Regions from separate parts of the Homo sapiens genome. Here region 2 is linked to region 1. Evidence: fine-mapped expression QTL. Tissue or cell type: neutrophils. Region 1 holds a variant in brackets; the other region holds the start of a gene. All regions are shown on one strand. Distances are from middle to middle.

Region 1 (8,108 bases):
CCTACAAAATAGACTGCTTATAAATTAATGTAACATAGTGTTTATTCACCTATCTCTGCCACTGCCTCTCACACCCACCCAAAAAAAGTATAAACAAAATTTATTAATTTCTAAAGGAATGAAACCCAAGGGGAGATATTTTGCTGAGTGCCTTTTCCTCTAACATGAAATTTTAATTCTGTCAACTTCCAAATTTGCCTTTATAAAATTACTATCACCCCAAAAGAATGACAGCAAACTTTGTTTATAGAATAAACACAAATACAATCTGCCATTTACTGCAAACAAACTCAAAACTCTCCCAGAAGCTATACCATAACTCCTATATTCTATCACCAAAAATGTTTCTAGAAAAGCACTCCAATGTAAAAAGTGAAATACCAGTTCCAGATGCCATATAGGAAATAGAAAATAGTAGCCAGGTCTTTCCTTGGTTCTACACTCCTCCACCAGAATTACAGCTGTACAATTTTCCCCATGCATTTTAAAATTAAATCTTTCTTATATATAGAATATATAGCTCAAAGATATAAGAAATAATAATAAAACAAATACCAGAATACCCAACACCCAGAAAAAGTACTAAAGCACTAATAATACCTTTGAAGACACTGTGTGCCCTCCTTTTATAAACGCATTCTTCAGGAAAAAAATCTATTCCCAGAATGGGAAGTTGAGTTTACTACCCAACTTTTACTGGAGCTATCACAAGTAAAATTTAGGATTAAAAAGAAAAGAAGAGGCCACATGCTATTTTAAAGCATTTTTACAATATTTACTCAACGTTATCAAATTTTCTACTTGATAAGGTCAGAAAACGAGGAACCAAAATAAAATAATTTAAAACTTATGATTAGGTATATTAAACTTGTCAAGGCTGCCCACATAAGGTTTCCCATAAATGTCATTCGATACACATTTATATACTTTAAAAAATAATATTCATATTTACTATTATTTACTTTTGAGGATAGCACAAATGTGTTACTCCACAACTAGATTTCTAAGTTGTAGTTTGTGTTTTATGTAGAAATACATACACAGCAAAACACACAAAGGAAAACTATACCCAAAACTAAACTTTTGAGTCTTTTTTTTGAGATGGAGTCTTGCTCTGTTGCCCAGGCTGGAGCACAGTGGTGCAATCTTGGCTCAGTGCAACCTCCACCTCCCAGGTTCAAGCAATTCTCTTGCCTCAGCCTCCCGAGTAGCTGGAACCACAGGCGTGTGCCAGCACGCCCAGCTAATTTTTGTATTATTAGTAGAGATGGAGTTTCACCTTGTTGGTCACGCTGGTCTTGAACTCCTGACCTCAGGTGATCCACCCGCCTTGGCCTCCCAAAGTGCTGGGATTACAGGCATGAGCCACCGCACCCGGCCTTGAGTTTGTCTTTAAACTCTTCCATTTTGATTAGAAATTTCAACAAACCACCAATTTTCATGACTTTCCAGAAAAGGTACTTGTAAAAACTATTTTGTTTATATACTAAAACATTTTATCAACCTTTAGTTTTTATAAACTGTCTTCATAAAAAGTAATTTCAGGAAGTTAAAAACAGTATTACTAGGTATATTATCGAAACATGATGAAGGACTAATTACAGATATTCAAAGGTTTGTTCCTTCACATATTACAAATGCTTAAAATAACTTTAAGTACCATACCTTGCAATTTAGCATTATTTTCATCTGCTTTACAAAGCTTCAAGAGAGATGCTGCATGTTGTTCTAGCATTTGAACATCACTGGAAGACTGAACCACCACCAAAATAAGTATGCATGCGTAATTATAAGCTACTGACTTCTTAGATTTGGAATCACTGAAACAAAATAAGGTTTTTAAGTTTTGGATACAAAAACAATTTTTTAGGAACAATTTTTAAAAATTTTCTTCTACTTGGCTTTAAAGAGATCAAGGACATTTACAATAAAACATGACTAACTGTCTGAAGACAAGAAATCAGATTTTACAGTTCATATCCAATTCACCTGAAACCATTACTTTACTTAAAAGTATATAAAAAAGCATACATATCACCATGGAAAGTAAAATTCTATTAAGAAATAAGATCAGAAAAACAATGAAATATTAACAAGTATACTTCATTAGTAATGAAAGGTTAGGAAGTATACTTCATTAGTCTCCTTCAAAATATTTGTCCAATCTGGATAAATAGGAACGAGTATGATCACCTGCCTTCAACACTCAGTATTCCACTATAAACCTGTTAAGATACAGCTAGGCATGAAAGTCATTGCTGTTTGCTTTTCATAAGCACCCCACAAAAGATCTGTCACTCAAGGAGTTATACACCCAGTCCTCATAGTGAGGGCAGTTATCTGGATGCCATTTGCCTTGTGTGACATGAACCAGAAATAAGGCATGTCTTTCTTCTCATATAATAAAACCCTCTGCCTTACCAAGAAGGCTCTTCAAACCATTATCATTCTCAATTTACCCATCTAGTCAAAGCAATTCTGAATCCAGAGCATGGTTTAGAATGCAAGGGCAGGAGCCAGCAAGAAAGTGTAAGAGGAATAAAAGGAATATATACCTTAAGGTACGTATTCCTGTGCCTTAGAATTCCCCTCTGCATAAAACAGCAGGGGGTACTACAGTTGCAATCTTTAACACCATGGGTTAACTGAAGGAAGGTGCTAAAGAGTCCACTGTATTACTTTATAGCCACATCTTATATTTTAGAGATTTCTGTCACTCTAACCTTTAATTAACAAGTTTTGTGTTATATCAAAACTATAGTTTTTCCCTCTCAAAATAACACCTTCTTTTAAGAAACTAGACCATTAGTTAATCTGATTTTCTAACATCATAGAAAATTTAAGGAGTAAGTAGGAAATTACCCCAAGGCTTCTTTGGAATAGTACTCCATTAGAGTAATAAGACTTTGGAGATTTTTCTCCAGACTAAAAACATGGCCAACAGCTGATCTTCCCACAGGATTAAAAGTAATCAAATAAAGATTGTGCAGGGTTCCCAAGAGATCTGAATGGTCTGTTTCTTCACTGGCTGTACAACGCTGAAAATGGCTGAACAGTTCTGTAATACATTGCAATGTCTGTGTTGAGTCCTGTAGCCACAAGGCAAATGCATCATCAATAACACCATCAGATTGGAGACCTTCCTCCTCATCTTGATCATAAAAGTGACACAGAGCTCGGATCAATAAATTTGTTGCTTCATATTCCGACATAAAAAAAAGAAGACCCTTCTGTGACTGTGCAAGAAACTTCAAAACATCTTTTGTGGCTTGCAGCACACCAGGGTGAGCACTTGTTACTGGAATTGACAGAAGCAAGGTAACCAACTCCAAGAAGTGATGACTGTGAAGATATCTGTGGAAGAGTTAATTGATACATGTCAAGTCAGTGCAAAGCATTCTTCATTTACTCAATATTCAGACAAGACACTGATAAAAATTTTTAATGACCATAATCCTTATCCTCAGTAATATACTGCTTTAACTGAAAACATAATGTGAGTGGCAAGTCTTCTCTAGATGAGGCCAAATAAGAGTGAATGTTCTGTGAGGCTTTGTCCTAGTTAGCACTCAACAGATGTTAAATAAATAATTATTGACAAGCTTTTCTTTAAATTTTGGGCCTTCTTTCCAGGACACTTATCAAATGCTCCTTTTTCACCATGGTCCTACTTTATTCATGGCATATTGGTATATTTAAATTCATGTATCTAGGAAAAATATAGTATATACAGTCAGCACTCCGCATCTGCATTTGTGGATTAAGCCAACTGCAAATCGAAAATATTTTTTAAAAGTGCATCTGATGCCAGGTGCAGTTGGTCACACTTACAATCCCAAGCACTTTGGGAGGCCGAGGCAGGCAGATCACTTTAGGCCAGGAGCTCAAGACCAGCCTGGGCAACATGGCAAAAACCTGTCTCTACAAAAAATACAAAAATTAGCCAGGCGTGGTGGCGCATGTCTGTAGTCTCAGCTACTGAAGAGGCTGAGCCCAGGGAGGTCAATGCTGCGGTGAGCCATGATTGCTCCACTGCACTCCAACCTGAGTGAGACCCTGCATCAAAAAAAAAAAAAAAAAAAAAAGCCTGGGCTGGCTGTGGTGGCTCACACCTGTAATCCCAGCACTCTGGGAGGCTGAGGCTGGAGGATCACTTGAGCGCAGTAATTTCACACCAGCCTTGAGCAATATAGTGAGACCCTGTCTCTAAAAAAATTTTTTAATTAGCTGGCCATGGTGGCCCATGCCTGTAGTCCCAGCTACTTGGGAGGCTGAGGTGGGAGGATCGCTTAAGCCCAGGAGGTTGAGGCTGCAGAAAGCCAAGATCATGCCACCGCACTCCAGCCTGGGCTAGGTGAAAGAGCAAGACTCTGTCTCAAAAAAAAAAGACAGAAAAGAATGTATCTGTACTGACCATGTACAGACTTTTTTCTTACATCATTCCCTACACAATAATAGTATAACAACTATTTACAGAGCATTTATATTGTACTATGTATTATAAGTAATCTAGACATGACTTCAAGTATACAAGAGGATATGCATAGGTTATATGCAAATACTACATCATTTTATATTTTATATCAGAGACTGGAGCATCCTTGGATTTTGGAATCCAAGGGAGGTCTGAGAACCAATTTTGCAGACAGTGAGGGATGACTGTACTATAGAAAAATATAGTATACTCAGATTTACTACAGTAGACTGAATTAGTATCTCTAGGGAAAAAGCTTTCAAATTGTCAATTTTTAACATTTAAGCAGTTAGTATTACCACACATAGCACTCTTTTATGAGACGAAATCTAGCTATGTTGCCCAGGCTGGACTC[A/T]AACTCCTGGTCTTAAGCAATTCTCTGGACTCAAGTGATCCTTTTGCCTCATTCTCCCTAAACTCTTTTCCAAAATCTACTTTTTTATCTCTTTTTTTTTTTTAAATTTTTTAGTTCTGGAGTACATGTGCAGAATGTGCAGGCTTGTTACATAGGTAAACGTGTGCCATGGTGGTTTGCTGCACCTATCAACCCATCACCTAGGTATGAAGCCCACATGTATTAGCTATTTTTCCTGATGCTCTCCCCCAACCCTCTGTTCTCCTTCAACAGGCCCCAGTGTGTGTTGCTGCCCTCTCTGTGTCCATGTGTTCTCACCGTTCAGCTCCCACTTGTAAGTGAGAACATGCAGTATTTGGTTTTCTGTTCCTGCATTAGTTTGCTGAGGATAATGGCTTCCAGCTTCATCTATGTCCCTGCAAAGGACATGATCTCATTCCTCAACTTTTTAAAAATGAAACTTAACCAGATTTTAAAGAAAAAAGAACCAAAACATCGTATTTTTTCAAATACTCAAAAATGGGGTAAAAATCTGTCAAAACATCTCTTGACTACAAGATAGAACCAGCTTAATGAAAACTTCTTAATTTTTAATTATTAAGAATATCATAATTTTCTGAAAGTTAAAAAGAATAAAATTATTTATAATTCTGACTCATTCTCTTCCATTTTAGTCACTGCAAATGGTAACACAATAGCTTTCATAAACCCATCAAAATACTACTAAAAAGTAAATGACAGGCCAGAACTTAATTTTGTCAAAAGCTGAAACTGCTTCTTCAGTCCTATTACTATTTAAACCCAGGCTTCTACTTCACAATAATAAACACCCACCAGTAACTGCTTACTACAAAGGCAAACAGAACCTTCAAGAAGACAAAACTCCAGAATTACTATGCTCCAAGAGCATCCCCCTTATGGACCATTCAGAGAATGGTTAAAATAGCAAGCCTCAGACTGCACATCCTTAGAGGTCTGCTTGCAAGGTTGGCTACTGGCTAACTTCTGGGAACTTAGATTTCAAGAGGATTCCCGCACCCCTAACTGATAAGAATGGTTCCTTGTGCCTAAATTATTTGTGCAAACAATATGGTTATGCTGAACACCTGCTTTCCTTCTAGGAGTCTGGAATTCTGGTATAAGATAGGCAGTGAGTGCCTACATGACTACCCACAATAAAAAAATTTGCATGCCAATTAGCTTGATATAATTATTCCACAATGTATACATGTATCAAAACATGTCACTGTTGCTATTTAAAAATAAAAAATAAAAAAGCCTGGGTGCCGAGTTTCTAAAGAGCTTCCTCAACAGGCAACACTTCACACATGTCACAACCTGTTGCTGTGAGAATTAGGCAGGCACTATGTGACTCCACTGTGAGAGGACTCTGGAAGCTTGCAACTGGTTTTCCCAACTTCCTCCCAGGTACCTTTTTCCTTTGCTGAGTATTATATGCTGAGTTTTGTGAGTCCTCCTAGAGAATCTTGGTGCTCTTGGGGAACCTGACATAGGACAATAGAGCCTTGCCACCACTTCAAAAACAAACCCTCCAAAGTACAATTATTTTTCCTTTCAAAATTCACTCTCCTTCCTAATTTACCAGTTTCTGTCAATAAAACCACAGCTCCAATTGCTACCCTGGCTAGAAATCTCTAGCTTCTTCTCACTTCCCTTCGCCTACTAGGTCCTGTTGCCAAGTCCTAGTACTATTATATAATATAATGGCTATTTCACAATCTCTGTCACTATAAGCACAATATTTGCCTTTCCATTACCTGTTAAGGGCAAAGTACTTAAAACCCAGTACCTAGAAACCTCAGACTATCTTATCTTCCTAGTAACTCTAATTTCTTTTCCATTGCAATACATCTTGCAACACAAAATCTGAGAATATTACTCTGATCATATCAGATCTGCTACTCCAAAATATTCAATACCTTTCCATATTCTACAAATAAAATCCAAATTCCTTAGCACAACCATTCTGGGCCCTTTATTTCCTCTTGTCTGATACCCAAATATACCTCCTCCATATGGTGGGAAAAAAACACTCAGTAAGTATTTAATTACTAGCTTCTTCTCAGTGACTGAAAACATCACCTATTCTACTAAAAATAAAGTTGTTAGTAAGAAGTATTTAAATTTCTTTACAATCTCCAAGACTACAAATGTATTATATTTGCATACTTACAAGATTCCCTTTCTCCTGCCCAAAACCAAACTCCTACACTTGTACTCTTGTCCTCATCTCCCACCAAGCCTTGCCCCAGGAATTGTTATTGTTTACTCCTACATCATAAACATCTCCCTCTCCACTGACTTTTTATTATAAATGAGTCATTATTCCCAGCCTACAAATATGCTCAAGCCTCTCCCACTCCTAAAAAATAAAAACCTTCCTTTTTGACTCCAACATCTCCTTCTAGCTGCTGCCTTGTCTCTTACTTTTTCTCTTAGCCAAATTTCTTGTTTTGAGACACAGTCTCACTCTGCTGCCCAGACTGGAGTGCAGTGGCACAATCACAGCTCACTGCACCCTTAACCTCTCAGGCTCAAGCAATCCTCCCACCTCAGCCTCCTGAGCAGCTGGGACTACAGGCGCACACTACCATTCCCAGCTATTTTTTTTTTGATTTTTTATTTTCTGTAGCGGTCTCCCTATGTTGCCCAGGCTGGCCAAATTTCTTTTTTGAGACGGAGTTTCGCTCTTGTCGCCCAGGCAGGAGTGCAGTGGCACGATCTCGGCTCACTGCAACCACTGCCTCCTGGGTTCAAGCGATTCTCCTGCCTCAGCCTCCCGAGTTAGCTGGGATTACAGGCATGCACCACCACACCTGGCTAGTTTTTCTTTTTTTGAGATAGCATCTCACTCTGTTGCCCAGGCTGGAGTGCAGTGGCCCGATCTCGGCTCACCAGAACCTCCAACCTCCCGGGTTCAAAGGATTCTCCTGCCTCAGCCTCCCAAGTAGCTGGGTTTACGGGCACATTCCACCAAAGCCCGGCTAGTTTTTGTGTGTGTCTGTGTGTGTGTGTGTTTTTGTTACTTGTTTATTTATTTTTTTGAGACGGAGTTTCGCTCTTGTTGCTTAGGCTGGAGTGCAATGGTGAGATCTCAGCTCACTGCAACCTCTGCCTCCCGGGTTCAAGCAATTCTCCTGCCTCAGCCTCCCAAGTAGCTGAGATTACACCCATGCGCCACCATGCCCCACTAATTTTGTATTTTTAGTAGAGATGGGGTTTCTCCATGCTGGTCAGGCTGGTCTTGAACTCTCGACC
Region 2 (8,108 bases), 33 kb after region 1:
TAAGTGTTTTTTCATTCACGGGAACACTATTCCCTCACAATCAAATTGTCTTTTAATAAGTTTAACTGCTTATCTTCTGAACTCAGTGGATTGGCCTTATAAATGTGTATCAATTGTTTATGTGGAGAAGAGGAAATTATTGGTAAAACAAATACAATACCAAAAAAAGAGCTGTTAATGGCAGCTGGCAATAAAGATTCCCTGTGTGAAACTAATAAATGTCTCTTCTCTACCATATTACAAATTCCTTTGAAATCAAGGGCAATGGGCTTTGTTCTGACTTGTATTGCCCCTCCTAAAGCCATACCCTCACCTTCAAAAGTGTTTTTCATAAATAATTGTTAAACAGATTCTCAACTTCCTATGGGGCAAATTAATCTGGCTAATTATCCCGTTCCCATCAAACTCACTTCCACACTCTTACCATCATTAGTCCCACTAGTTCTCCTGTCTCTAAAACTAGAATTTTACCATTTTTAACTACCCTATCTCCTTCACATAATCAGTTGCCATCCTGTCAATTCTATACTCGAAATTTGTACATATCCAAAACTTGTATAAATCCTCTCCTACGTAGTTCCACTGGGACACAGCATAGCACTGCCTTAGAGCCAGAAAAATGTATGATGGTGGATCTTAATCTAGCTATGCTATTTTAGGAAAGTCACCTCATCTCTCAGGCTCAGTTTCCTTATCTATAAAATGTAGATGACTACCTTTGAAAACTCAGCGTGGGCCCTGCAGTGGCTCACGCCTGTAATCTTCGCACTTTGGGAGGCTGAGGTGGGAGAATCGCTTGAGCTCAGGAATTCAAGACCAGCCTGGGAAACATGGCAAAACACCGTCTCTACAAAAAAATATGAAAATCAGCCAGGCGTGTTGGTGCACAACTGTAGTCCCAGCTACTCGGGAGGCTGAGATGGAAGGATCGATTGAGCCCTGGTGGGAGAAATTGCAGTGAGCTGTGATCGCACCAGTGCACTCCAGCTTGGGTGACAGAGCAAGACCTAGTCTTAAAAAAAAAAAAAAAAACTGATGGAAGGACCAGAGATGATTTACTTAAGTTATCAAAGCCCACTGTGTCTGGCACAAATTAAGCATTCAATAAATGTTAAACAATGCTTACTGCCCATTGGCTAACTCAGGTTTTCATAACATCTCACTTTTTCTCTCTGATTTTGTCACCTCACCTCTATTTTCTCTGAACCATTTTTTTTTTTTTTCTTTTTGAGACGGAGTCTCGCTCTGTCACCCAGGCTGGAGTGCAGTGGCACAATCTCGGCTCACTGCAAGCTCTGCCTCCCGGGTTCACGCCATTCTCCGGCCTCAGCCTCCTGAGTAGCTGGGACTACAGGCACCTGCCACCACGCTCGGCTATTTGTTTGTATTTTTAGTAGAGACAGGGTTTCACCATGTTAGCCAGGATGGTCTCGATCTCCTGACCTCGTGATCCGCTTGCCTCGGCCTCCCAAAGTGCTGGGATTACAGGCATGAGCCACGGCGCCTGGCCTTCTCTGAACCATTTTAAGTATTATTGATCAAGTAATCTATCTAATGTATCTTACTAATTGTATGATTCGCCTGCTCAAAAACTACCCATTTCCTACAAAATAAAGTCCATAATTTTTATTTATTTATGTATTTATTTATTTTAAAAGACAGAGTCTTGCTCTGTCGCACAGGCTGGAGTGCAGTGGCGTGATCTTGGCTCACAGCAACCTCCTCCTCCCGGGTGCTAGCAATTCTCCTGCCTCAGCCTTCCGAGTAGCTGGGACTATAGACGCACACCGCCACGCCCAGCTAATTTTTTGTATTTTAGTAGAGACGGGGTTTCACTGTGTTACCCAGGCTGGTGTCGAACTCCTGACGTCAGGCAATCCACCCACCTCAGCCTCACCAAAGTGCCGGGATTACAGGCGTGAGCCACTGCGCCTGGCCTAAAGTCTGTAATTCTTTGTCGAGCATTCAAGGAGCTCCATGATCTGTCTTTGAATTGCCTTGGGTGCCACTTCACACTGCTACTTCAAGCATACCCTAACAGACGACTGACTACCCCAGTAGAATGCCCTCCTTTCCTAACTACAACTGTGAAATATTGCCCCTTTCACCAAAGACCAAGTTCATAAGCCAAACACCTTGATGAAGTCTTTCCTGATACACTCAAATGAAAAGTTATCTCTGCCTCTTCTGAAATCTTGTATCTTTTATTTATACCCACAAAGGGAGCTAGTTCTAATACGTCAGATACTGATGGGCATTTTGTAAACTAAGATGATAAACCCCAACGAATTCACACTGTGCTTCTTTATGTGATCATCACATTCTAACTCAAATCACAATTTTGTGAATCTAATCTCCAATACTGAGTTATAACTTCTTGAAAACAAACATTTCAATATTTCGTATCACCCACAAACCCCTACTTCCTCCTTCAAGACTTGATTTAAATGTGATCTCTGCTAAGCCTTCCCCAATCACCCCAGAAGAAAGCATTTACCATCTGCCCTATGCTCTCAAGGTATTCAATGTTTACCTAAGAATGAATAAAAGAATAGAAATACATGATAAACTAATGAAGGCCAATTTTCCTAAACTAGAATAGTACTAAACTAATTCATCACATGCCTCTTTCTCTTTTTCCTTTTTCTCTTTCTTCCTTTCGAGACAGGGTCTCACTCTGTTGCTCAGGCTGGAGCACAGTGGTGTGATCTTAGCTCACTGCAGCCTTGAACTCCCAGGATCAAATGATCCTTCCACTTCAGCCTCCCGAGTAGCTGGGGCAACAAGATCAAACCACCACAACTAGTTAATTTTCTTTTGTAGAGACAGGGGTTGCACTGTGTTGCCTAGGATGGTCTCAAACTCCTGGACTCAAGCAATCCTTCTGCTTCCGCCTCCCAAAACGTTGAGATTACAGGCATGAGCCACTGCGCCAGGCTCTTTCAGTTTTAACTGTTCTCTATTTCTATACACCATAAGTTTGTTCTGATCCAACTACTGCCTCCATTGAGGGTTTTCTAAATCTCGGCTAGAATGTTAGATATAGTCATTGAACAAACAGTGCTAACTGACCCACATTAAATGTCAGACCATAAATTAACTGTCAGTAAGAAATGCTAACTCAAAGTTCTCCAACTTTTGACTTTTACAAACCTATAAACCATTCGTTAAATTAGATCACAGCTGTCAACTTTTTATTTTGCCAAGTAAAGCATTATGATACAATCACTACCCACTATCATTACTATCTCATAAAAGAAAGAACATTTTAAACATTTTCCATTCAAATATTTATTGAGCACCTACATTTTGCTAATACTGTCCTAGGCACTGGAGATACAGCTGAGAAAAAGAGAAATTATATCTGTCCTCAAAAAGCTTGATACAAGAGCACACTTGATAAAAATAAAAGGAAAAAAATAATCTCCAAAGAAAGAACAGTTCTCTAAATTAAGCTTACATTAAGACAGAAAAATGTGAAGTTCGTTTTTTTTTTTAACAATTTCTCCGTAGACTTCATTCAAGTTCATTTTTGGTCTGCTTTCAGGAATCTTTAGTTAACCAGCTATGTTTAATCTACATATTGCAGGGCCAATTGTACATTAAGGGGCGCTCAAGTAGTTTTGTACAGAAATATTACTCCACAACATTCCACCTCCAACCTCAAAGGAGATGTCTGCTGATGAGTTTAACTATAATTCTCTCAACTCTCCCCTCTTCGCAAGTATTCTCCGTGAATGCATCTCATTCCTAATGTGTGAAATCTCTCCGAGAGACAAGTATTAAAGTTTCAGGCCAAATCGGAGAGCACCGTAATCCTAAACCAAGTAAGTGTCACAACTGGGGAACATAATTCCCGACAGAAAAGAGGCCAAAGAGAAAGGATTTAGAAACATCGTGATTCGGAAACCACGAAGCCAACGTAAACTGCTCAGACTCCGGCACTACTGTCAAACACTACTGGCAAACCAAGACCCCTCCCAAACGCCATCTGAGGTAAACCTGAGAACCCTGATCCTTCTCAAGGCCCAAACCTGACAGGAAAAATAAAAAATAAAGCCATGCAAGCAGAAAAGCCAACTCGACCAAAGACACGGAGGGCCCAAGTTAAAGCAAGGAAATGAAGGGGCTGCTGCAGCCCTCCCTCAGACGCGATGCTCACACAGCTCGGGGGAGGGTGTCTGTGTGTAAGCGAGAAATTAAAGAAGCAATCTGCAGAAGGAAAAGTGGAGAACGCCTAACGGTTTTTTTGTAAAGATCCCAAGTCAAGAAGCAGCGTCAGAATCAAGTCGCCAAGCCTTACCTCAGCGCTCGGGTGTTTAAAAGTATCTAAAAATAACAGCTCCATCGCCGAGTCCACCGCCATGTTTGCCGCGGGCGGGGAACAGGGGGGAGGACTTCCGGGGCAGCGCTCCAGCCTCCGCGACAGCGACTCAGGAGAGGGAGAAACAGAGGGACTTCCGGTGACCAGAGCACTAGCGCCGCAAACCTCGGCCTATCCCAACGCATCTTGTTGCCCGGAGTTGCCGGCCCCGCCTTTTCCAGCGCGGCGGAGGGCGCCCCCTAGAACGCAGAGGGGGGGCAGAGGGAAGTGAGATGGGGACTACGGGGTCTCCAGTGGTTCAAACCCTGTCGTTCCTCCGCGTTACAGAGCTACAGCGGTCTCCGGGTGGCGAAGTGCGGAGACGGGGTTTTGGAGACGGTGGATGGAGGAGGGGGAGGGAAAGCTGCCAACTTTGGATACCAACCCCGTACACCCACCGAAGGGGATGTCCCACTTTTTCCAGCGCTGGGAGCAAAAAGATAACAGTGAGCGAGGTTGAAAAGTAAGACATTGATTTAAATAGAAGAAAAACTGTTGTTTCAACCAACGAAGAGATTCTTTGTTTTCTTATCTGTAAAATGTGAAAAATCGTACCTAACCTACAGGGTGATTGTGAGGAGTAATTGAAATAAAATTCGAGGAATTGTGTAACGTGAAGTACCATGAACAATAAAACAGGAGGCAGAATGAAAAGTAAGCCTCTCTGTCGGGTGTTGATGAGCTTTGGAGCAACGAGATAAACTCAGCGGGTTTGGTAGTCTAAATGGCACAAACCCTTAGCAGAGCAACTAGGAAATAGCTTGTAAAATTACACGTGCCTACCACTCTTCTAGGAAAATTCTCGCCCACGTATCTACAAATACAAGAATATTCATAGCAAACTTTATAAGTTGCAAAAGAGCAGGAAACATAAGTGCCATTGACAGAAGTAATAAGTAAATAGTGGCGTATTTATATAATAGTATATAGCAGGTACGAAGAATGAACCAGTGCTATGTTTACTAGCATGAAAAACCCAAAAAACAGGGTTGGTGGGCGCTTTGGCTCACGCCTGTAATCCAGCACTTAGGGAGGATGAAGCGGGAGGATCGCTTGAGCCCAGGAGTTGGAGAACTGCCTGGGCAATATAGCGAGACCCCGTTATTCACAAAAAGAAAAAAAAAAGACACAAACCAAAACAAAACAAGTTTAACTCCTCTCATCGCAAGCCGGGTGCGGTGGCGTGTTCCTGTGGTCCCAACTTCTCGGGAAGCTGAGACAGGAGAATCTCTTAAGCCCAGGAGTTGGAGGCCAGTGGGGACACCCATCTCTTAGAAAAGGAAATAAAAAATATATAGTGTAAAATAACATCTATATATTTAAAAACGTGCAAAAGAATATAAAATTTTAGGAGTGTACATATGTCATGAAATTATAAAGTCATGTATTGGAGTAACTAAAATTTCAAGATAGTGGTAAACTGGAAGGAGATGTAATGGAGAAGAACAGAAAGGCTTCACATGCCTTGGTAATGTTTTGTTATTTAGGTTAATGTTAATTTCACAAGCATGCCTTATATTATTGTTTGTACCTTCTGGTATGTCTGAAATATTTAATAATAAATGAATTTCTAAAGTAAATCTCCTCTCCACATCCTTCCTCAGCCATCCAGTTTCCTCTATTAGCTAGCTATAGTTTATCTTTTATTATTTGTTCTTGCATTGATATTTATTGCTTTTAATATTTTTCTGTTTTCTGATTCTTGCCTCTTTTTTTTTTTAGAAACAGGGTCTTGCTTCGTTGCCCAGCCTGGTCTCAAACTCTTGGCTTCAAGCAATCCTCCTGCCTCAGCCTCCCAAAGTGCTGTGATTATAGGCGTGAGCCACCGTGCCCCCCCCCTTCTTCTGTGTTTAGGCTTATATGCTGTTCTCTAATTTCTACCACTGATGTTTATTTTTATTCATATTTCTTATTTATTACTATATGTATTTATATAAATTTTCCCCTAAGCTCTCCCTTAACCAATGTACTATATAGTGCTTTTATAGTTGTCATTTTTACAGTCTGATTTTCTTAGCATTGATATCCTTTTTTTTTTTACATTTTTATTTTTATTTCAACAGTTTTGAGGGAACAGGTGATGTTTGGTTGCATGGAAAAGTTCTTTAGTGGTGATCTCTGAGGTTTTGGTGCACCCATCACCTGAGCAGTGTATACTGTATCCAATGTGTATGTAGTCTTTTATCCCTCACTCCCTCGCCCACCCTTCCCCGCCGCCAGTCCCCAAAGTCCATTATATAATTCTTAGGAGTTTGCATCCTCATAGCTTAGCTCCTGCTTAATAGTGAGAACATGCCATGTTTTGTTTTCCATTCCTGAGTTGCTTCACTTAGAATGATGGTCTCCAGCTCCATCCAGGTTGCTGCAAATGCCATTATTTTGTTCCTTTTTGTGGTTGAGTTAGTAGTATTCCCATATATATTCCCATATATATATATATATATATATATATATATATATATATATATATATATGTAGTATTCCCATATGTATATATATGTATATACACCACATTTTCTTTATCCACTCGTTGGTCGATGGGCATTTAGGCTGGTTCTGTATTTTGGCAACTGTGAGCTGTGCTGCTATAAACGTGTGTGCAAGTGTCTTTTTCATATAATGACTTCTTTTCCTTTGAGTAGATACCCAGTAGTGGGATTATTGGATCAAATGGTAGTTCTACTATTAGTTCTTTAAGGAATCTACATACTGTTTTCCATAGTGGTTGTACTGGTTTACATTCCCACCAGCAGTGTAAAAGTGTTCCCCTTTCACCACATCCATGCCAACATCTGTTTTTTTTTATTTTTTAATTATGGCCATTCTTGCAGGAGTAAGGTGGTATCTCATTGTGGTTTTGATTGGCATTTCCCTGATAATTAATGATGTTGAGCATTTTTTCATTTCTTTATTGGCAATTTATATATATATATATATATATTTGTTGTTGTTGTTTTGTTTTGGTTTTTGAGACGGAGTCTTGCTCTGTTGCGCAGGCTGGAGTGCAATGACTCGATCTTGGCTGACTGCACCCTCTGCCTCCCTGGTTGAAGCAATTTTCCTGCCTCAGCCTCCTGAGTAGCTGGGACTGCAGGCGTGCACCACCACCCCCAGCTAATTTTTGTATTTTTAGTAGAGATGGGGTTTCACCATGTTAGCCAGGCTAGTCTTGAACTCCTGGCCTCAGACAATGCTCGCCTCGGCCTCCCAAAGTGCTGGGATTATAGGCGTGAGCCACTGTGTCCGGTGAATTTGTATATTTTCTTTTAAGAATTGTCTATTCATGTCCTTTGCCCACTTTTTGATGGGATAATTTATTTTTTTCTTGCTGATTTGTTTGAGTTATTTGTAGATTCTGGATATTAGCCCTTTGTTGGATACGTAGTTTGTGAAGATTTTTCTCCCACTCAATGGATTGTCTGTTTACTCTGCTGATTATTTCTTTTGCTGTGCAGAAGCTTTTTAATTTAATTAGGTCCCATCTATTTACCTTTGTTTTTGTTGTATTTGCTTTTGGATTATTGGTCATGAACTCTTTGCCTAAGCCAGTGTGTACAAGAATTTTTCCTATGTTATCGTCTAGAATTTTTAGTTTCAGGTCTCAGATTTAAGTCTTTGATCCATTGTGAGTTGATTTTTGTATCAGGCACAGATGGGGATCCAGTTTCCTTCTTCTACATGTGGCTTGCGAATCATCCCAGCACCATTTGTTGAATAGGGTGTCCTTTCCCCACTTTATGTTTTT

Direction of the effects. Alleles are on the strand shown, and positions count from the first base shown. SD is a standard deviation of normalised expression in the study named.
For the expression in neutrophils of the gene that starts at base 4,388 in region 2, allele T in region 1 goes with a lower level than allele A (large effect, 0.78 SD a copy in BLUEPRINT).

Evidence for each region. PIP is the estimated chance that this variant, and not a neighbour inherited with it, causes the effect.
Region 2: VIRMA starts here. The variant in region 1 is fine-mapped to the expression of VIRMA in neutrophils (BLUEPRINT, PIP 0.95).

What each region holds. Positions count from the first base shown.
Region 1 is chr8:94,516,123-94,524,230 of GRCh38, forward strand. It overlaps VIRMA (vir like m6A methyltransferase associated), which reads right to left. Exons shown (of 24, transcript NM_015496.5): 9 at 2,863-3,354; 10 at 1,666-1,820. Among named protein-coding and RNA genes, the nearest start is that of VIRMA, 33 kb to the right of the region's middle. The variant A/T (reference allele first, on the strand shown) is at 4,830.
Region 2 is chr8:94,549,082-94,557,189 of GRCh38, forward strand. VIRMA (vir like m6A methyltransferase associated) reads right to left here and starts at 4,388. Exons shown (of 24, transcript NM_015496.5): 1 at 4,304-4,388. The coding sequence starts at 4,366. VIRMA-DT (VIRMA divergent transcript) reads left to right here and starts at 4,632. Exons shown (of 2, transcript NR_183271.1): 1 at 4,632-4,826. RefSeq lists an enhancer at 4,082-4,701.